Homo sapiens: one gene and its partner. The protein of the gene in region 1 purifies or fractionates together with the protein of each later gene. This does not show direct contact. Each region holds a gene or a part of one and is shown in the gene's direction. Other genes may lie near its edges.

Region 1 (4,674 bases):
CTTCCGGCAAGGGATGGGGGCGGGGTGGGCCTATAGTGCCTTGGAATCCAGGACAAAACCCCCAACCCACCGAATAACTGGGGAGGGCGGAGAATAAGAACCCCCACTTTCTTTGACAGAATTCGCAGGATCGTTCAGGCACTAGACAGTATTTTTTAAATAGGGGACTAATTTGCTGGGGTCTACAGAAATGTGAGATTTATTTTTTTCCTTTCCTGACTTATTTTAAAAATCTGGCCACGAATTTCCTGATTGTTGAGGGAACAGAAGATCCAAAATCTCTGGAGAGGGAGTGGAGAGGAGGCTAGAATCCCTCCCCAGCATTGTAAAGTTTTCCTTGCCTCTTTGGTATATTGAGCTCAAACCTATAGACATTTCCACTGCCAACTCCCCCATATGTGGTCGAGAAAGAGAGTTAGTTATTGGTGCCCCAGACACAGAAAGAAGGGCGTGGGGATGAGAAATGGGAGAGGAAGACCTGTTCAAGACCTGTTCAGGGGCTTCTGGAGTCCAGACCCAGGCTGGGGACCCCTTGGTCTTGTCTGGCTAAGGATGGGAAGGGAGAATTCATTCCCCTCTTGTTCCGTCTCCAGTTGAAGAGAGAAAGGCTCCTGTAAATCCCACCGCTCTCCTTGCGGACAAGACCAGTCCCAGGTTTCCCAAAACCACACCAAGAGCTTTGGATCCTGCCTTGTGCTGAGAAATCAGGATTCCGGTCTAGGGAGTCCAGCATTTGAGTCTGTTCTCCCTGTAAGCAGAGCTCAGTGGGAGAGCGTTCTCCCTTCTGATACCTACAGAGGTCTTTGGGGGTGGGGGGCCCAGGGCAGCCACAGATGTCTCCCGACAGTGCCCAGCTCCCCGACCAGCTCCACGTGCCAAGCTCAGGGATGTTTTCCTTGGAAAGCATAGACCCAAAGACCTCCTAAGGGTGGGCCTGAAATTCCTCTGCATACGGAATTGGAAGAAGAGGTAGGTGGTTTAAAAAAAAATACTGAGTGATATTAGAGAGTGTAGCAAATAACATTCTTGTGAATATTATGAAATTACTTAGTATAACACAACTCAATACCAGGGTATGACCTACACTAGGCACCCTGACTTCTGATTGCCAGAATTAAGGATGGTGCAATTTTAGTACATGGTATTATGCATCACCTACCCTGTATTGGCTGTAATATTTTTATATAATATGATTTCTTTTATTAACTACCTAATATGAAATATACAATAATAGATTTCTAGAAAGACAATTCACATGTTCATAATACAGCAATGTATTTTAGAGAGATGGCCCTTTAATTCTCTATCTCACCAAAACACAAAGCTTCTTAGGAGATTGGGGTCCAGCAGGAATTCCTGGGGCAGGGAAGCCAATGGGCTATGCCAAGGGGCTAAGGGGTAAGGGATCAGGTGCCCACCAAACCCACTGTGGATTGGGGGCACAGGCCCAGAGCAATGTGCAATGGGTTTAGTGTGAAGAGGTAGAAGAGAAGGAGCTGTTCTATGTATGAATGTGGTGTGGAGTAGGGGTGAAGGATTGGAGAGAAGCTGAGAAATATCTTTGAGCAAAATAAACATCTCAAAGATTCCTAGGACACAAAACAAAACAAAACAAAACAAAACAAAACTCCACTAAAAATAAATACTTTTTTGATCACAGCCTCCTAGAGAAAAATATCTTTGAAATAAAAAAAGTATATCCCAATTGAGATTTAATACACTTGCAAATTATGGCATGGAAATGGATATAAAACCTAGCATGCCTCAGCAGCTATGTGCTCCCACAATCCCCGTGTGGAAATAGAATTGGGCTGATGTATCTCAGTGAGTGCAGAGGTACAGACAAGAGGCAGACGAATAAGAAATTATCTTCAGACACTCTCCATCTTTCTACCCACTCAGAGATCTTTTAGAAGTAGTGAGATTTCAAGATAACTCTGTCTGTGCAATTGTGGTTTGTTCGGCAACATGTAGGCATAAACACTGCTGTCTCTCTACAGTGCCTCTGGCTCTGAGAATCCTCATCTGTGGTAGTCTGGGCTGGTGTGGGAGATGGAGGCAATTGTTCAGCAAGATCCAGATAATTAGGGCCAAGATGTGTCGTGGCTTCTTCCTTCTCCCAATTATACAGACTCTTGCTTTATTGCTCTGGTTTTTTTTTTTTTCTCCCTACGGTGAGTGTAGACTTTTTTTTTTTTTTTTTTTTTTTTTTTTTTTTTTTTTGAGAGAGAGAGAGAAGCAGAAATTCCAGGAGAGAATCAGAAAGGGAGAAAAAGAGAGATGGGGTTTAGGAGAGAGAAAGAGGGAGAAAGAAACAGTGGGCTATTTGGACCACACTAGAAGTCTTTACTGACAAGCCTTTGGATTTGGGTTGGGAAGAGTAGCAAGCTGGATTTCTAGCTGGACAAGGCACTCTTCAGAGCCCAGAGCTTGCCTGTGGGGGGGCGGGTGGTCAAGGGTGGGTGGGCTGTGGGGAGCTGAACAGAGGGGCCCCGAAGCCCAAAAAGAAAGCCATGGCTGAGCATTGAGATGATTTTTATTTACTCCTCAAAGGTGTCTATTAGGTTTCCAGGCATGAAGTCATTCGTGTATGTGATCTGGAGGGAGACTAGGGAAGGGGTGATTGTAAGATTAATAACTAAGCCCCCACTCACTTTAGGCAGTGTACGCACATCTCCAGGTCCAAGCTACCAGATGTTTCTTCATCTCTACATACCATTTCCTTTCCAGATAAGGCAGCAGACAAAGAAAGGGGGCTTCTTTGAGAAGGCAAGACTGGAGTTATTTCCCCAGGAGGCCAAACCAACCTGCAGTTGGTCTGATCCAGGACAAATTGGCTAAATCAATCCTTGGCATCCTATAGAGAAAAATAACCAGTTTAAACCAGTTGTCTACTTTTTAAACTGATTTTTTTTAGGGTTGATTAAATCTCATTGGAAATTTAGAGCTAGAATTTAGGAAACCAAAATTGGATAGGTAATTGTGAGAGTTTAAAGAGAGTAAAGTAAAAAATTAGGGACAATTATCTGGCTAATTCAGAAACAAAAACCCACCTTTACCCTACTGTATTCTTCTCCAGGGAAAAGGAGGTGTTTTAAAGCTGGATTGTATTAGCTGGCCTATTTCCATTTTAAAACTTACTGTATCATTTTAAGAGTCAGAAAGTCTGGCTTTAAAATCTGGTTCTGCCACTTAAGTTATTTTACCCACTCTGAGCCTCAGATTCCTAATCTTGTAAAATGAGTTTAACAAAATAATCCTGAAAAAATGTTCTGAGGATTAAAAACAACAATAACAACAACAAAAGCAACAAACTCATGGTATCACTACATATCCTCTTCATTCTATTCTTGTCAACAAATCGTCAATTTCCCAAATCATGGTTACCTCTGTAAGAGTAAAACAAATTTGAGAACTGAGAGATTTAAAGATAATGGTCGTGTTCAAAAACAAATCCTTTTTAACCTAAAGGATCCATACTGTTTAAATAAAGTTATTTTGTTTTTTAGATTTTTTTAAATCATAGTTTATTCTCACAGAGGCAGAGAAAAATGCCAGGTCCAACAGTTTTCCTGAGAAATTGTCACCAGAAGACAGTCAAATGAGGCCATTGGACCCCGTCTCCCATTTTCTTCCTGAGCATTTTGTTTTCCCCTGTGTCTCACTGTGACCACTACTCTTCCCATTGTGTATAGAGTCCATGAGAGAAAGCAGACCCAATGGGGATGGGTACAGGGAAAGTGTTCTGTGAGGGTGGGATGGGAACAAACATTTCAGAAAGAACTTTGTGTCTTCCCTCTGGGCTGTGTCTATAGTTTCAAAATGTGGTAGGAATGAAGGGGAAACCCCAAATATTCAGCCCTCCTCATTAGCTTTCACCTAAAGTCTAATAATTACATGGAAAAAATTGAGGGCTGAGCTATCCAGATAATCTCCCTAGTTCCCCCACTTCCCCTTGAAAGTGTTGCGTGACCTTTATTGACAGGGATGAGGGTGGAGTAGAAAATGGAGTTAGAAGTGATATATATTGGTTTTAGTTTCTGTGAAATTCTCAGAGCCTAAAGAAACAGAACTGGTAATATTGGTTTGGATGACAGGCATCTAGGGTTTAGGGTTATGGTTGGTGCAAGGGATGTAGACAGTTTCCTTCAGCTGTGAAGGAATGGAGAGGGAAGGCGGTTGGAACAGAATTTGTTCTGTTTTGGTGGGACTGCAGTGTGGACCCCCTACTTCCAGAGACACCTGATTCCCTATATCTCAGGTTCAGGACCCCCCACCTTGGGTGTTAGGTGGTTCATAACATTGGACCCCAATTCCTAGAGTGTGGACCTCCAAGCAGGCTGGCTTCACCTGGACACTTATCTTCTATCTGTGCCTCACATCCCTAACGTAGGGCCAGTGTCCAAAGGCGTGAAGACTCATCTGGTGGTCTGGGCCCACTGAAGCTGACCCCCTGCCTGCCATGCCCTCCCTGAAATATACAACAGAATGTCTTCCTCTGGCAACGGGGCAGAATATAAACTAATAAGGACCCAAGCGATCTAACTGCAGGAAGGAGGGATTTTTCTGAATATCTGAAATTCTGCAAGCATGGCAGGCCAGGCTGGAATTTGGAGGGTCCCTTCTAAATATACAAGGATCCTAATATTGAGTGCTGTGAAGAGCCATATTGGG
Region 2 (4,533 bases), on another chromosome or scaffold:
CTAGTGCCCTGTCCCTGAGGAGGGGCAGAGGGCTGTGGGGAGAGGTTCAACCCTCCCCCAACCCAAGCCTTTGCCTTTTTTTTTCTTTTTGGAGACAGGGTCTTGCTCTGTCGCCTAAGCTGGATGCAGGGGCACGATCTCCACTCACTGCAACCTCTGCCTCCTGGGTTCCAGTGATTGTTGTGCCCTAGCTTCCCTAGTAGCTGGGATTATGCGTGTGCACCACCACACCTGGCTAGTTTTTGTATTTTTAGTAGAGACAGGGTTTCACCATATTGGCCAGGCTGATACTGAACTCCTGACCTCAAGTGATCTGCCCGCCTCCGGCTCCCAGAGTGCTGGGATTACAGGCGTGAGCCACCATGCCCGGCCACTAACCCTTTGCCTTGACTCCCCACCTCTGCACCTCCCCGTCTTCACCCCACCCTGGCACCATCCCCCTCTTGCCATGTTGACTGAGATGCCCCTCTCACATGAACTTCCGCCTCCTCCTCCAGGACCAGGTTTCCAAGGACAAGGCTTTCCAGACAATGGCAACCATGTCCTCTGCCCAGCTCATCTCCGCGCCTTCTCTGCAGGCCAAACTGGGTCCCACTGGTCCTCAGGTGGTCCAGGTTGGGGATTGTGGGACGTGGGGGCAAAGGGGGATGGATGGGGCTGCAGCTGTCCACAGGGGACTGACCAACCATTTTTCTTTGTGTCCTATCCAGGCCTCTGAGCTTTTCCAGTTTTGGTCTGGAGGATCTGGGCCCCCCTGGAATGTTCCAGAGTGAGTACTATGTGTCCTGGCTCAGCACCTGCCCCCCACCCTCACACTCCCACAGAGACCTTTCTCACTCCACCTTCTAGCTCCTGTGTCCCCCCATTTATGTATGTATGTATGTATGTATGTATGCATGTATGTATGTATTTATTGACATGGAGTCTTGCTCCGTTGCCCAGGCTGGATGGAGTACAGTGGTGCGATCTCGGCTCACTGCAACCTCCGCTTCCTGAGTTCAAGCAGTTCTCCTGCCTCAGCCTCCCGAGTAGCTGGGACTATAGGCGCCTGCCTCTATGCACGGCTAATTTTTGTATTTTTAGTAGAGATGGGTTTTCACCACGTTGGCCAGGCTGGTCTTGAACTCCTGACCTCGTGATCCACCCGCCTCAGCCTCCCCAAATGCTAGGATTACAGGCGTGAGCCACCGTGCCCAGCCTCTATTAGGTGGTTCTTGGACCTGAGGGTAGAACAGAGGTTATAATTAATCTTCTCTTAGGTTCAGAAGGAAGAAAATGTTTCCCAGAGGTAAGTGGGAGTGTCCTTTTCAGTTCTGAGAGAGCCTTGAGGTGACGGGATATGTTTGTAGCCTACAAGAATAGAAATGGGCCCCAGAAGATGATGGGAAGTGCTTTTTTTTTTTTTTCTTTTTTTATACAGGATATTCTTCTGTTGCCTAAGCTGGGGTGCGGTGGCACAATCATGGCTCACTGCAGCCTCAGCCTCCTGGGTTCAAGCAATCTTCTTGCCTCAGCCTCCTGAGTAGCTGAGACTACAGGCATGTGCCACCACACCTGGCTAATTTTTTGATTTTTGTAGAGACGGGGGTCTTGCTATGTTGCCCAGGTTGGTCTTGAACTCCTGGGCTCAAGTGATCCCCCTGCCTGGACCTCCCAAAGTGCTGGGATTACAGGCGTGAGCCACCGTGGCGGGCTAGGGGTGTATTTCTCAGCCCAGAGAGGAACTGATGGATCCAGGCTAGGCATTGGTTGGGTAGTGTGGCTGCAGGACGGTGAGGCAGGAGTGTTGACGGTATTGTCAGAGAAAGAGTGTAGTGAGGGCCGAGTGTGGTGGCTCACGCCTGTAATCCCAGCACTTTGGGAGGCTGAGGCGGGTGGATCACGAGGTCAGGAGATCGAGACCATTCTGGCCAACATGGTGAAACCCCGTCTCTACTAAAAACACCAAAAAAAAAAAAACAAAAAACAATTAGCTGGGCGTGGTGGCAGGCACCTGTAGTCCCAGCTACTCAGGAGGGTGAGGCAGGAGAATCACTTGAACCCAGGAGGCAGAGGTTGCATTGAGCCAAGATTGTGCCACTGTACTCCAGCCTGGGCAATAGAGCGAGACTCCAGCTCAAAAAAAAAAAAAAGAGTGCAGTGACAGGCTGTGTGGGATCTAGACTGGAAGAGAAGGAAGGTCACTGGGGAGCTGCTGCTGAATGGGGATACGGGAAGCATCAGATCAAGTACCTGGGGGCTGAGGGTTTTGCAGGGGGGTTGCTTAGCTGGAAGGTAGGGGGCTGGGCAGGCACTGCCCTGACGCTGGGGTTTCCGCTTTCATGGAGCTGTTAGTCAAATGGGGGAAATGAGCGTTCATCAAATCATCACCTGCATAAACAGAAAATCGAAGAATGTGTGAGGTGCTGTGAAGAACCACAGCAGGTTCTGGGGTGGAGGAGAAAGTTCTAGGGGTTTCTCTGAGAAGATAACATTGAAGGCCGGGTAGGACTTAGCCAGGTGAAGAATGGGAGTGGGAGGCCCGGCATGGTGGCCCGCATCTGTAATCCCAGCACTTTGGGAGGCCAAGGAGGGCAGATCACTTGAGGTCAGGAGTTCGAGACCAGCCTGTCCAGCATAGTAAAACCCCATCTCTACCTAAAATGCAAAAAATAGCCAGGCATGGTGATGTGCGCCTGTAATCCCAGCTACTCCGGAGCCTGAGGCAGGAGAATCGCTTGAACCTGGGAAGCAGAGGTTGCAGGGAGCTGAGATTGTGCCACTGCACTCCAGCCTGGGCAACAGAGCGAGACTCTATCTCAAAGGAAAAAAAAAAAGAATGGGAGTGGGAATATATTAGGCAGACACAATAGCACACGACAAAGTCCTCAGGTAGGAGATCTTTCTGGGTTCCAGGAATCTAGAGGAGGCCAGTCCAGTATTTGTTGAGTGCCTACTAAGTGCCTGATACTGTGCTTGGTTTGGGGGCACAGCAGTAAGACAGGTGAAATTCCTGCCTTCACGGAGCTTCATATATTTGGTGGGCGGGGGAGGAGACAGACAATAAACATATAAACAAAGAATTAATAAGAAAAGGAGGCCAGGCATAGTGGCTCATGCCTGTAATCCCAGCACTTTGGGAGACCGAGGTGGGTGGATCATTTGAGGTCAGGAGTTCGAGACCAGCCTGACCAACACAGTGAAACCCCGTCTCTACTAAAAAAATACAAAATTAGCTGGGTGTGGTGGCACAGCCTGTAATAATCCTAGCTACTTGGAAGGCTGAGGCAGGAGAATCGCTTGAATGCAGGAGGCGGAGGTTGCGGTGAGCCAAGATCACGCCATTGCAGTCCGGCCTGGGCAACAAGAGCAAAACTCTGTCTCAAAAAAAAATAGAGCTGGGGTCTTGCTGTGTTGCCCAGGCTGGTCTCAAACTCCTGGGCTCAAGCGATCTTCCTGCCTTGGCCTCCCAAAGTGGTGGGAATACAGGCGTGAGCGACTGCGCCTGGTCTGACCTCTGACATCTAAGTCTCTTCACCACTATCTCTTGGGCTACTAGGGCTGTGACTGATACTGTAGCCACTAGCCTCATGCAGCTATTTAAATTAAAATTAAATAAAATTAAAGATTCTGTTTCTCAGGTCCATGAGCCACACTTGTGCTCAGTGGCCACGTGGTCTGTGGTCAGTAGCCACATGTGGGCACTGGGTACCGTATTGGATGGCACAGATTTCCATCCAATAGAACATTTCCATCCCTGGAAAGTTCTATTGGCCAGTGCTGCCTCCCCACCCCGACTTTGGCCTCCTGTCCCATCTCCTGAGTGTTGGTCATTTTCTTCCCACCCTCCCAACCCCTCAGCCTCTTCTTCCTCCAAATTCCTTGTCTTCTGCGTCTTCTCCCTGCCTTCCAAGACTTGGTTTCTCTTCTCTCCTCTTTCTTTTTATTTTTTTTTTGAAATGGAGTCTTGCTCTGTCACCCAGGAGTATAATGGCGTAATCTCGGCTCACTGCAACATCTGCCTCCCGGGTTCAAGCAGTTCTCCTGGCCCAGCCCCCTGAATAGCTCGGATTACAGGCGCGCACCACCACACTCTGCTAATTTTTGTATTTTTAGTAGAGATGGGATTTCACCATGTTGGCCAGGCTGGTCTCGAACTCCTGACCTCAAGTGATCTGCCCGCCTCAACCTCCTGAAGTGCTGGGATTACAGGTGTGAGCCACCACGCCAGGCTGGTTTCTCTTCTCTTTCTGACATTTTGTGAGAGATACCAAAATGTCATCATCAAGAGCCTGAGATACCGGGCTGAGACTGACCTGGGTTCAAGTCCCAGCTCTGCTGCATCTCAACTGTGTGACTTTGGGCAGGTCAGTTGACCCCTCTATACCTCAGTTGTCCTCATTTGTGCAATGAAAAGAGCAGTCATTCTACCTACCTCACGCACTGTGAGGCTTCAGTGAGATTGTGCACAAAATGCACAGGGTCTTGCTTGTTGTGGCCTCTCAGTAAACATTTGCTGGTGACATTAGCATCTTTCTACCTGGCTAACCCCTG

Evidence for each region. The genes of interacting proteins can lie anywhere in the genome.
Region 2: the proteins of HOXC13 (region 1) and TEAD2 purify together in Homo sapiens (tandem affinity purification; one large-scale study listed by IntAct). This does not show direct contact.

Annotation. Positions count from the first base shown.
Region 1 is NC_000012.12:53,939,969-53,944,642, forward strand, and holds part of HOXC13 (homeobox protein Hox-C13), read left to right. Parts: intron 1-4,674. UniProt on the Homo sapiens protein: Transcription factor which plays a role in hair follicle differentiation. Regulates FOXQ1 expression and that of other hair-specific genes.
Region 2 is NC_000019.10:49,351,384-49,355,916, reverse strand, and holds part of TEAD2 (transcriptional enhancer factor TEF-4), read left to right. Parts: intron 1-497; coding exon 498-605; coding exon of another isoform or gene 606-614; intron 615-710; coding exon 711-769; intron 770-4,533. UniProt on the Homo sapiens protein: Transcription factor which plays a key role in the Hippo signaling pathway, a pathway involved in organ size control and tumor suppression by restricting proliferation and promoting apoptosis.